2 linked regions of the Homo sapiens genome follow. The protein of the gene in region 2 interacts with the protein of the main gene of each other region in a pairwise test. Each region holds a gene or a part of one and is shown on either strand. Other genes may lie near its edges.

Region 1 (3,275 bases), on a different chromosome or scaffold from region 2:
AATGAATCATAGGTGAAGGAGTAAGGAGTTGAGGGAGACAGAGTTAGTGGAACTACTGAAACAACCTGTCCAATTAATTTGGACCTCCAGAATAGGCTCTGAGAAGAAGCCACAACTATCTTCCAACTAGACCGAATCCCTGAGGTCTTGTCTCCTCATGTTATCTGCTCCTGAAGGGGTTTGGAAATCTCCAGGGTTTTTCAGGTTTGTGGAGAAAGACTAGGACAACCACTGACCAGCAACTGCCCTGGCACTTGGTAGGGCTATGATGGATTTACTGAATGTTGAAGCAGAAAGTGAAATGCAAACCAATTTTAGTATTGCATGCCCTATGTTAATCTCTGGTCAGCACTGAGTGTTCAAAGACAGTAGGACGTCGGTTGCTGACCTGCCTCTTAGAAGCTAGTTTAACTCAGCGGGTAAGGATCTAGGACTTCTACATTAGTTACCACTGTAATGATAACACCACCAGAAAAGTCTGTAGTTTAATATTTCCCACCTTATGCCTGTTTCTTCATTCACGCAAAGAAAATAAAAATATAATACCTAAGCCTCTTTGTATTACATAAAGCAAAATGCAAAGCACTGTATCTTCCAAATACTTCCTCTTGATATGGTGGAATTATAGAGTAGTATCATTTGTAACTGAAATGTCTTCTAGGGTTGCTATGCGAAAGCAAGACTGTGGTTTCATTCCAATTTCCTGTATATCGGAATCATCACCATCTGTGTATGTGTGATTGAGGTAAGAGCTTAACCACAGGGTTATTGTGAGGATTACATGAGTTAAGTCAGGTAAGATTTCAGAATAATACCAGGTACACAGTATTTACACAATAAATGTTAGCTATTTTTACTAATATATGAATTCCCCCAGCCAAGTAGCAAATAATGTAATTAACAATTTGCTTTAAGGTATATAGAAAATGTGCTATAAGAACATCTCTTGGCCGGGCGTGGTGGCTCACGCCTGTAATCCCAGCACTTTGGGAGGCTGAGGCAGGCAGATCACGAGGTCAGGAGATCAAGACCATCCTGGCTAACATGGTGAAACCCCGTCTCTACTAAAAATACAAAAAATTAACCAGACGTAGTGGCAGGTGCCTGTAGTCCCAGCTACTTGGGAGGCTAAGGTAGGAGAATGGCGTGAACCTGGGAGGCGGAGCTTGTAGTGAGTCAAGATCGTGCCACTGCACTCCTGCCTGGGCGACAGAGCGAGACTCTGTCTCCAGAAAAAAAAAAAAAAAAAGAACATCTCTCTGGTCAATTCATTCCTCAGAGATATGAGTGATTCACATGATTCACAGTCAAACAAAAAAGCCACCAAGCAGAATCCCACTGTGATCCCTCCTCAGCTGGTCTGAAAAATACGAATTGATAAAGTATTTCATTTGAAAACCTGATCTTGCATGTTAAGGGGCTGATGACGAAAATTGTAATCAATTTCCTCTTTGTTTCTGTGCTTAGTTTGACAAGTGATGGGTGAATTGAGGGTAGTTTTTTGTCCTTTTTAATAAAAAAGGACAAAAATAATGTGATATTTCTAACATTTTTCTACCCAAAGTGTTGGGTATATCATAGATTAGTTAAAACTCAATCAGGAAGCTCAGAGAAAATGATTTTTCTCTGTTTGGAAACAAAGGAGGCACAGAGCATGGATAGAGATAACTCATTGCACAGTGTTCAGTGAGCAGAATATGACCATCCTAGCAGCAAGGCTTCTGTGACTTCCTCAGAAGATAAAACATGCTCCAGTACTTTACAGCCTGTTATCTTGTCATCATTGACCCCGTTTCTCTCCTCACTGCTATTCTTTAACCAAAGGAAAGAGCTCCTGAGAGAGACTTGAAAGTAATGGTTGGAAGGGTGGTTTCAGTGTAATGGATACATTCTTTTTCTCAGAGGCCAATCCCAGGCATTGTGAAAGAAATGGCTTTTCTTATGAAGACTTCAAATTTTCCCAACTCTTTTCACAGGTGTTGGGGATGTCCTTTGCACTGACCCTGAACTGCCAGATTGACAAAACCAGCCAGACCATAGGGCTATGATCTGCAGTAGTCCTGTGGTGAAGAGACTTGTTTCATCTCCGGAAATGCAAAACCATTTATAGCATGAAGCCCTACATGATCACTGCAGGATGATCCTCCTCCCATCCTTTCCCTTTTTAGGTCCCTGTCTTATACAACCAGAGAAGTGGGTGTTGGCCAGGCACATCCCATCTCAGGCAGCAAGACAATCTTTCACTCACTGACGGCAGCAGCCATGTCTCTCAAAGTGGTGAAACTAATATCTGAGCATCTTTTAGACAAGAGAGGCAAAGACAAACTGGATTTAATGGCCCAACATCAAAGGGTGAACCCAGGATATGAATTTTTGCATCTTCCCATTGTCGAATTAGTCTCCAGCCTCTAAATAATGCCCAGTCTTCTCCCCAAAGTCAAGCAAGAGACTAGTTGAAGGGAGTTCTGGGGCCAGGCTCACTGGACCATTGTCACAACCCTCTGTTTCTCTTTGACTAAGTGCCCTGGCTACAGGAATTACACAGTTCTCTTTCTCCAAAGGGCAAGATCTCATTTCAATTTCTTTATTAGAGGGCCTTATTGATGTGTTCTAAGTCTTTCCAGAAAAAAACTATCCAGTGATTTATATCCTGATTTCAACCAGTCACTTAGCTGATAATCACAGTAAGAAGACTTCTGGTATTATCTCTCTATCAGATAAGATTTTGTTAATGTACTATTTTACTCTTCAATAAATAAAAGTTTATTATCTCAATCACAACATTGCTATATATCAAACACTCCTTCCATGACCCAGCCTGATTACCCTGATTAATGCACCAAACCAGGTGTATTAATTGTCTCCTGCTGCATAAAATATTACTCCAAAATTTAGTGGCTGAGGACAACAAACATTTATTATCTCATGGTTTTTGTGGGTCAGGAATCTAGGAGCAGCTTAGCTGGGTGATTCTGGTTCACAGTCTCTCATGTAACTGCAATCAACATGTCAGCCTGGGCTGCAGTAACCTTAAGGCTCAACTGAAAGAGGATCTACTTTCAGGCTCTCTCACATCGCTGTTGGCAAGCCTCAGATCTTTGCCACTTGTGCCTTTCCACGGGGCTTCCTTATGACATGGAAGCTGGCTTCCCCCCATTTAAAGACATCCAAGAAAGGGCATGAGATTCGGCACCCAAAACAGAAGCCACAGTTTGTTGTTTTTGTTGTTGTTGTTTTGAGATGGAGACTTGCTTTGTCACATAGGCTGGAGTGCA
Region 2 (7,237 bases):
TTCTAGGATGCAAAAACTAGAGGAAGGATATTTAGGAGAAGTAGAGAACTGCCTTATAAAACAAGGAGAAGTTCTGATTACAGACCATCAGTCTAGGTCCCTTCAGTAAAATATTTCTAGAATGCAAAAGAATTATAGATAAATGTAGTTCAATAAACTTGTTTGTTAAGAACATCCAATTCCTTTTTGGACAGCTCTGTGTTTACCTAGTCTAGAACTTGGTTTCACTTACTAGGAAAAAACTCAGAAGTTTACTCTTTAGAAAAGCATTACCATATAATTTGAAATTATATCAAACCAGTTTAAATATTTTTGTTTAAAAGGTACTTAAATATAAATGTGCTATTTGCTTTTTTCCCCCAGAATTCTATTTAGGTCAGTATTGAAATATTTCTTGATAATCGTTAGTGAAAATTCATGAATTTTTTTTTTTTTAAAGACAGAAAAGTTTGTCCTTAGACTCCATCAGAATTACTGAAGTGGTATTTTCAGTGAAATCTCATCTCTCTGTTTAGTTTACTGACTTGACATCGTGATGTTTATATTGACTACAGTAGATTTATTTCTTTATTACACAACTCTTAGTGAACTTGTGTACGTTAGAATACATTGTCAATATAAATATTCACTATGTTGTTAGAAAACTAATGTTACTGTGTATATTTATATGTACACACATACATATGAAGAAAAAATACCAATTTTTCATATGACATATTTTTTCTGTTGAACTCATTTAACATACAAGTATTTTGTTTGTTAAAACATTGGTAATAACAAGATGAATAAGATGTACATTCTGCCTTTGTGAGGATTCTACTATACAGAGAGGACAATTCTTCAGCTTACTGTAGAATATATGACAATGAGTTCTATGGTGTACAGTTGGAGTACTGTGCACAGTAGGAGTACTGTGTACATGGGCAGTTAGGGAAAGTGGCATTAGAACGAGGTCTTCAAAGAATGAGAAGAGTCAGTAAGCAGAAGAAACAGACTATTTCAAGATAGAGAGTTAGGAAAGAATATTGTTTAGTTGGAGAATAACATGAAGTTGCCAGTGACAGGAGATTAGGTTTATGTGCATTGAGTGGGTAAGAAAGAGAAAATATAAAATTACAGAGAGTGTTGAAAGTGGAGTTATGGCTTAGGGCCAGATTGTGAAGGCTTCATATATGTGGTAAGATGTCTTAACTTGCTATAACTTTTAAAGAAATGCTTTTATTTTTAAAAGGGAAAATGCTATTATATTTGGTGCTTAGAAAAACATTTTTTGTTGCAATGTAAAGTACAAACTTGATAGTGGCTATATTTGGGGTAAGAATCCAAATTTGGGGGCTATTGCAGTAGTCAAAGTAAGAAGTAAGGAATGGAAATTGGATTGGAGAGTATAACATAAGGAAGGAATATTTTAACCATTATAATAAGTAATATGTGATTAATGCATGTGTGGATTGAAGGCAAAAGGAATAGAGTATAATTTGGCTCAACAGGATGGAATGTTGGTGCCATCTCTTAAGATTTAAAATGCACGAGAGAGAAGGAAATCTTTTAGAGAGGCATGTCAAGATTCTGTAAGTTTATCTCTTTGGAAATGTCTAAAATGTCTAAAGTCTAAAAAATAATGAACTGTGTCAAAAATCTTGATGTACCATAACTGTTTTGTGCATTTGGTTTTCTTTCTTTTCTTAGATTTCTATAGGAAGCCACTGCCTCCCCTGGCTGTGCCACAGCGACCTAACAGTGATGCTCATGATGTGATCTCATAAACAAGACGTATGGAGGAGTTCTCTTAATATCAGCAAGGTGAACTGGGACATTCTTCTTTCTCAGAAGAAGAAACATCTTGTAAATTGATGACTGGGGCAAGATAACCATAATAATTTTAGTGAGAAGATTAATACTCAAGGACCTGACTTGATAATTACTTATTTGTGTTTTTCATGGTTAAAAAAATAAAAGAAGCACAATGACCAGTACATGAAATCAGCATTTGGACCAAATTAGCAAGATTTACTGTTGACTCTGGTTTATACATCCCCACTCATGAGCATACTTCTGAAGGAAAACTTTACAAAAAGAGCCAATGGACTCAGCACTTTCTTTACTATTTGTTCAATAGCCTATATTTCTAGATATTAAATATTTTTTGTAAGATATATGCACATAGAAGGGGGACTTCTAGGAATTTATAACCAAAATTTTAAAACTATTTTTATATTTTTTTAAATCTTTAAAAATTTTAATTACTGTGATATTGATTATACACCTTTTTTATAGATGATTTGTTTAAATTATATCTGGAAAATAGAGTTGATTTACTTTCAGACATGAACTATACAAACAGGATATATTTATATGGCTTGAGGTATGTTTTGTAATAGCGTTGTTCTTTAAGTGTACATCGTAATTTGACCTAATTTAAAAATAATATATTTTCGAAGTAGTAGATTCTCAGATCTTTATTCTAACAATTACATGATTTGAAAACAGTACTCAATGAGACTGGAAATACCTTTTGTACCTAAATGTTTTTTAAATTAATCAAAATACATTCTGTGAGATACTATTAAAAGTCTCAGTAAAGTCCTATTTTAAAGGTTAGACACTTTCAGAGATCAAGGTGCTCCCTATACTCCCTTGTTCCATCAGAAGCTGCAGTGACTCTTTTAGGTGATTCTAATTCTTTCATGCCTTGAAATTAAACTATGAAATTAAAGGCAGAAAAACTGGAAAACCTACTGCAGGTCCAGAGACTTCTGTTTTACAACTGGGAAACAGCTTGTGTACTAAAGTAATGAGAATAAAAATGTTGGCCCAAAATTACTTTTATAAATAAATAATTCCAAAATAATTTCTTAATTTAAAATGATAGCACTTCTCTTGCACTTAAGAATGGCATCCATAAGATTCTGTATTTGGCATTTAGACTAACTTCTAGATGTATATTTTTAATAATAGATTCATAATGTTACATTTAATTGAAAACAAACCTTTATATCCAATGAAAATAGTATAAACAGAATGATTTTTATACCACCTTGTTAAGATTGGTGCTTTTGGTAACTTGTACTGACACAACAGACATGTGCTAGTATCTGATAACATTAAGTACATTTTATGTCGTTTAATATAATTATTTACTTTAAAAATTGTACTTCAGAACATCAGATTTTATTCACATTTTTTAACTCACTGAACTTTAATAATCAGGTCACCTGTACTCTAGTCAGCACTGTATATATTCTTGGAGTTTGTACATGGGACTTAGCAACCACACTGAGTGAGGTAAAAGCATTTGATTTCAGATCTAAAATTCGTAACAACCTAAATTTGAGAGGTGGCTGAAATGTGATGAAAAGCAATACGAAAAGACAATGTAAACTTTGAAAAGGATTTTAGAGGGAAAATTGCATAGCTTTTTGTAACATTTACTTAATTTTAAAACTAAACTCATACTTTTGCTATCTTTTTAATATTTATCTCGTTTGGGAGTATACGTGTTTTTAAAATTTGTGTTTTCTATCTGTTTACTATAGTGTAGCTACTGGCTTCATTTAATAAAAATAAATGATTTTGAAATTAAATATAATATAGAATTCACATTTTATATAGCTCTCTCAAAAATTAATTTTTATTCCTTAAGCATTTTAAAAACATTTTAAAAAATGTTTTGTAAATCCAGGTGTATTTTAACAATTAAATGCCTATTTTGTTATATGTTATACTTTTATTCTTAATTCTGAATTTTGACATTTTCACACAATAAAAATAATTTATATCAATATTCTGTTTCTCTTTTCAATTGGTAGATTTAAATGATTTCCTTTGGGTAATAAAATAGGTAAAGATTTTAAAATATGATTATTGAAAAACAGTTTAAATCAGTAGATTAAAATAATGCATTTTTTTGATACTTTACACACAAAACTTTTTTCTCTCTGCAAGTTTTTATGTATGTGGGAAAGAATTTGTGATTTTAAATGCAGCTACAAATAGCATTTCACCATATGATGTTAGAGGATTTGATGTCTGTCTTGCGTTAAAGCTGTTGGTCAACAGATATGTTTTTATGTATTTAAAAGAGGCTCTTGTGTGCCTTTATGTGTAAAATGCATATTACGTAGTATACATGATATTGTATGTAACTGACTTCAAATATAAAACTATGCATAGAAACAACACTAGAAAGAAATGTAGTTTGGCTTACTTTTGTAGTGAGGGAGGCAAATTTATAATATTGTATAAATTATTTAAGTACCATGTTTTCTGCAAGTTTAAAATTAAGTGCTTTTATAAATGCCAGATTAAGACTACAATTCCCTTAATATGTAAAACCTGTGAACATCGTGGAGCAGTTCACCTGCAGAATACAACTAAAGAAATCAAATGCTTCTAGGTAGCAAAAGCTATTCACAAGCTAAATTGTTTATACATATAAAGCTGTAGCTTATAAACTTTATCATCCTTGGCTTTACTTAGTAAATTTTTTTGCTAAGTGGAATATGCTTTGCAACTGAGATTCTGCTAATAATGGTTTATTAATTTATCAGGAAGTATATTCCAACTGATCCAAAGAACAAATTCAAATATTTTAAAATTTTCAATTAAGCATGGCATAGGTTATCAAAATAGCAATAATCCTTTATCTTTACAGAAACAGAATAATAGATACCTGTTTTTTGAGGGGGGAAAAAAAGAAAGCCAGAAATTAACTTCCTTTAATGAAAGAGATCAGCTTATAATTAAATGGAAAATAGGAAAAAAGTTCATTTGCTTGTTGAGGGCTTAACTTGTAAGTTCCTTCTGTGTGCGGATGAGGAAATCATTTACAACCTAGGTAAGTGGATCAGTGGTTTCCAAGTTTTTATTATAATATCTTCTATCAGAAAACATTTTTAATATACATTGATGTTTATGTTATTGTATTAGTTTGCTAGGGTGGCCATAACAAAGTATCACAGACAAGTTGCTTAAACAACAGAAATTTATTTTCTCAGTTCTGGGGACTGGTAGTCTGAGAGCAAGTTGGTGGGTTTGCTTTCTCCTGAGGCCCCTCCTTGCCTGATAGATAGACACTGTCTTGTGTCCCCACGTGGCCTTTTTTCTCCACCCACCCCCACTGTCTCTGTGTGTTCGATTTTCCTCTTTTTATGACTTCTTATAACTTAACTTTGTAAAGGCCCATCTCCAAATATAGTCACATTCTGAGGTACTGGGGGTTAAGGCATCAACGTGAATTTTGGGGGGACAAATTTCAGCCCATAACAGTTAACATACTTGTTCTACTGCACTATGTACATTTTAAATACACTTCCCTAAAAAAAGAAATTTTAAAAGACTACATAAAGCTTAATAAAAATAAAAGTCATTATATTTACTTCCTAGACACAGTGGATTGTCTGCTGGAGTTTGTACAGACCACATTGGAGCCCTGAAATTTAGTAAAATGAGAATCTCACCTGACGTTTAAGCCTAAGATTGCCTATAACTATGCTGTGTTCTGTAGCATTGATCACAGGTTTCCTGTTGTGTTTTCCTGTTGTTTTTCTGCCATATATTTTAAGGAGCTCAGGGCTCTCTTGATGTCATATTGTTTTACTACAAAGCGTCTCCTTACCTTTTTGACAACATAAACCTCTATATGAACATGAAGGGTTTTGACACATTTTATATAAATATGAAAATTCATAAAACATAGTTTAGGAGTTATTCCATAAATTACTCTGAAATACTTCTTAAGACCAACTGACCTTATAATAAAATTGCTTAGATATGTAAAAATTTGTTTCCTGCCTAGAGGTACGTCCTTATTAAGCTGCTTGGTTCTTTAACGCTAACATTAAAAAAAGCACAAAAAACAAACTAATGTGATTTATGTTATTTGTGTCAGCTCAATGTCTTATGTCTGCAGTGGTTTAATTCAAGTTTGCTGCTAACAGTTTTTATTCCTAAAACTCAATGTAGAATTGTTTGTTCTTTGGTAGCTATTTGGGGTGCGGATGGGGAGTAAAATCCATTAACATTCTCATGATACACATATATTGATTCTAGATAGATTAAGAGGTTAAACATAAAAGATCAAACTATGAAAAGGTAAGGGGAGAAACAGAAGTGGCTTCACTCGGGGAAAAAATGTATAAGCCTGAAAGCAGTGGAATCAATAAACTCAATTTACAATGCACAAAAAAAATTTTAAAATACCTTCACACTTAAAGTCAAATGGTTATAAGAAAAATTGAGAAAGTGTTTTAACATCTGACATGGTTATCTCAAATATAAATAAAATGATACTAAGACACCTATAGATAAGTGGACATGAGCGGTAATCTAAAAAAGAAATAACTAATAAGATTTGAAAACCTACCCAAACTAAGGGCATAATTAACTAGGCATTATAAGGAGATTATTAGAGATTCAGACAAAATTCATAAGCAAAGTTGTTTATTTAAAATCAGAAAATATAAAGATGCTGAGTCCCAAAAATGTGATAAAATTAATATGACCTCTTTCCAAGTATAACACATTGCCTTTCTCTAACAGAAATAAACTATGATTCTTATTACAGTCTTAAAATTCTTTTTTTAATGAATGAGTGTAACTTTTTATTAAGATAGAATTATTTTTATTAAAGAAATATATGAAAATGGTTAAGTAAAATCAAATGGCTCCAAAAGTCTTACAATGAAAACAGTCCTGCGACTTGTTCTTTCCAGAGGAAAGCACTTTTCATTCTCTTAGTTTTTCCTTCTGGTAGTTACCTCCATGGGTTTTAAAAAATTACTATTTTTTTAGTTTTTCAAGTGAATACATATATTAATACATGTAATCTTTAAAAGCCTCTTCAGTTTATAATGCATCCTAACAGTCCCCTGCCCCATCCCTCCTAATTCTCTGGAGCAATGACTTCTAACTCTTCTAGCAATGTTCCATTCTTTTCTTCACATAACTACTTAGTCATTTCTTGATTATGTTATACATTATATAGTGATTTCTTGATATGACAGATGAGGATTTAGCTCTTACACCATCACTATCTTCACTTTTCCCCCCATATTGTCCCAAAGTAGTTACCAGATTTAGGGGCTAAGCAGTCAGTCACCACATCATTATGACTATGTACATATTGCCCATTGTTGAGAAAAACAGCGTATGATGCTCTTACTTCCTATCCTGTACTTCTTCCTGCCCTAGAATTAATTATTGCCTAACCAACCCTTCCCCCTTGTTTTTTTTTGTT

The links. The genes of interacting proteins can lie anywhere in the genome.
Region 1: the proteins of ARL13B (region 2) and CD53 interact in binary tests that used the Homo sapiens proteins (3 or more experiments, as listed by UniProt).

What each region holds. Positions count from the first base shown.
Region 1 is NC_000001.11:110,897,148-110,900,422, forward strand, and holds the end of CD53 (leukocyte surface antigen CD53), read left to right. Parts: intron 1-661; coding exon 662-745; intron 746-1,976; coding exon 1,977-2,048; 3' UTR 2,049-2,775; downstream 2,776-3,275. UniProt on the Homo sapiens protein: Structural component of specialized membrane microdomains known as tetraspanin-enriched microdomains (TERMs), which act as platforms for receptor clustering and signaling.
Region 2 is NC_000003.12:94,051,498-94,058,734, forward strand, and holds the end of ARL13B (ADP-ribosylation factor-like protein 13B), read left to right. Parts: intron 1-1,689; coding exon 1,690-1,766; 3' UTR 1,767-4,181; downstream 4,182-7,237. UniProt on the Homo sapiens protein: Cilium-specific protein required to control the microtubule-based, ciliary axoneme structure. May act by maintaining the association between IFT subcomplexes A and B. Binds GTP but is not able to hydrolyze fit; the GTPase activity remains unclear.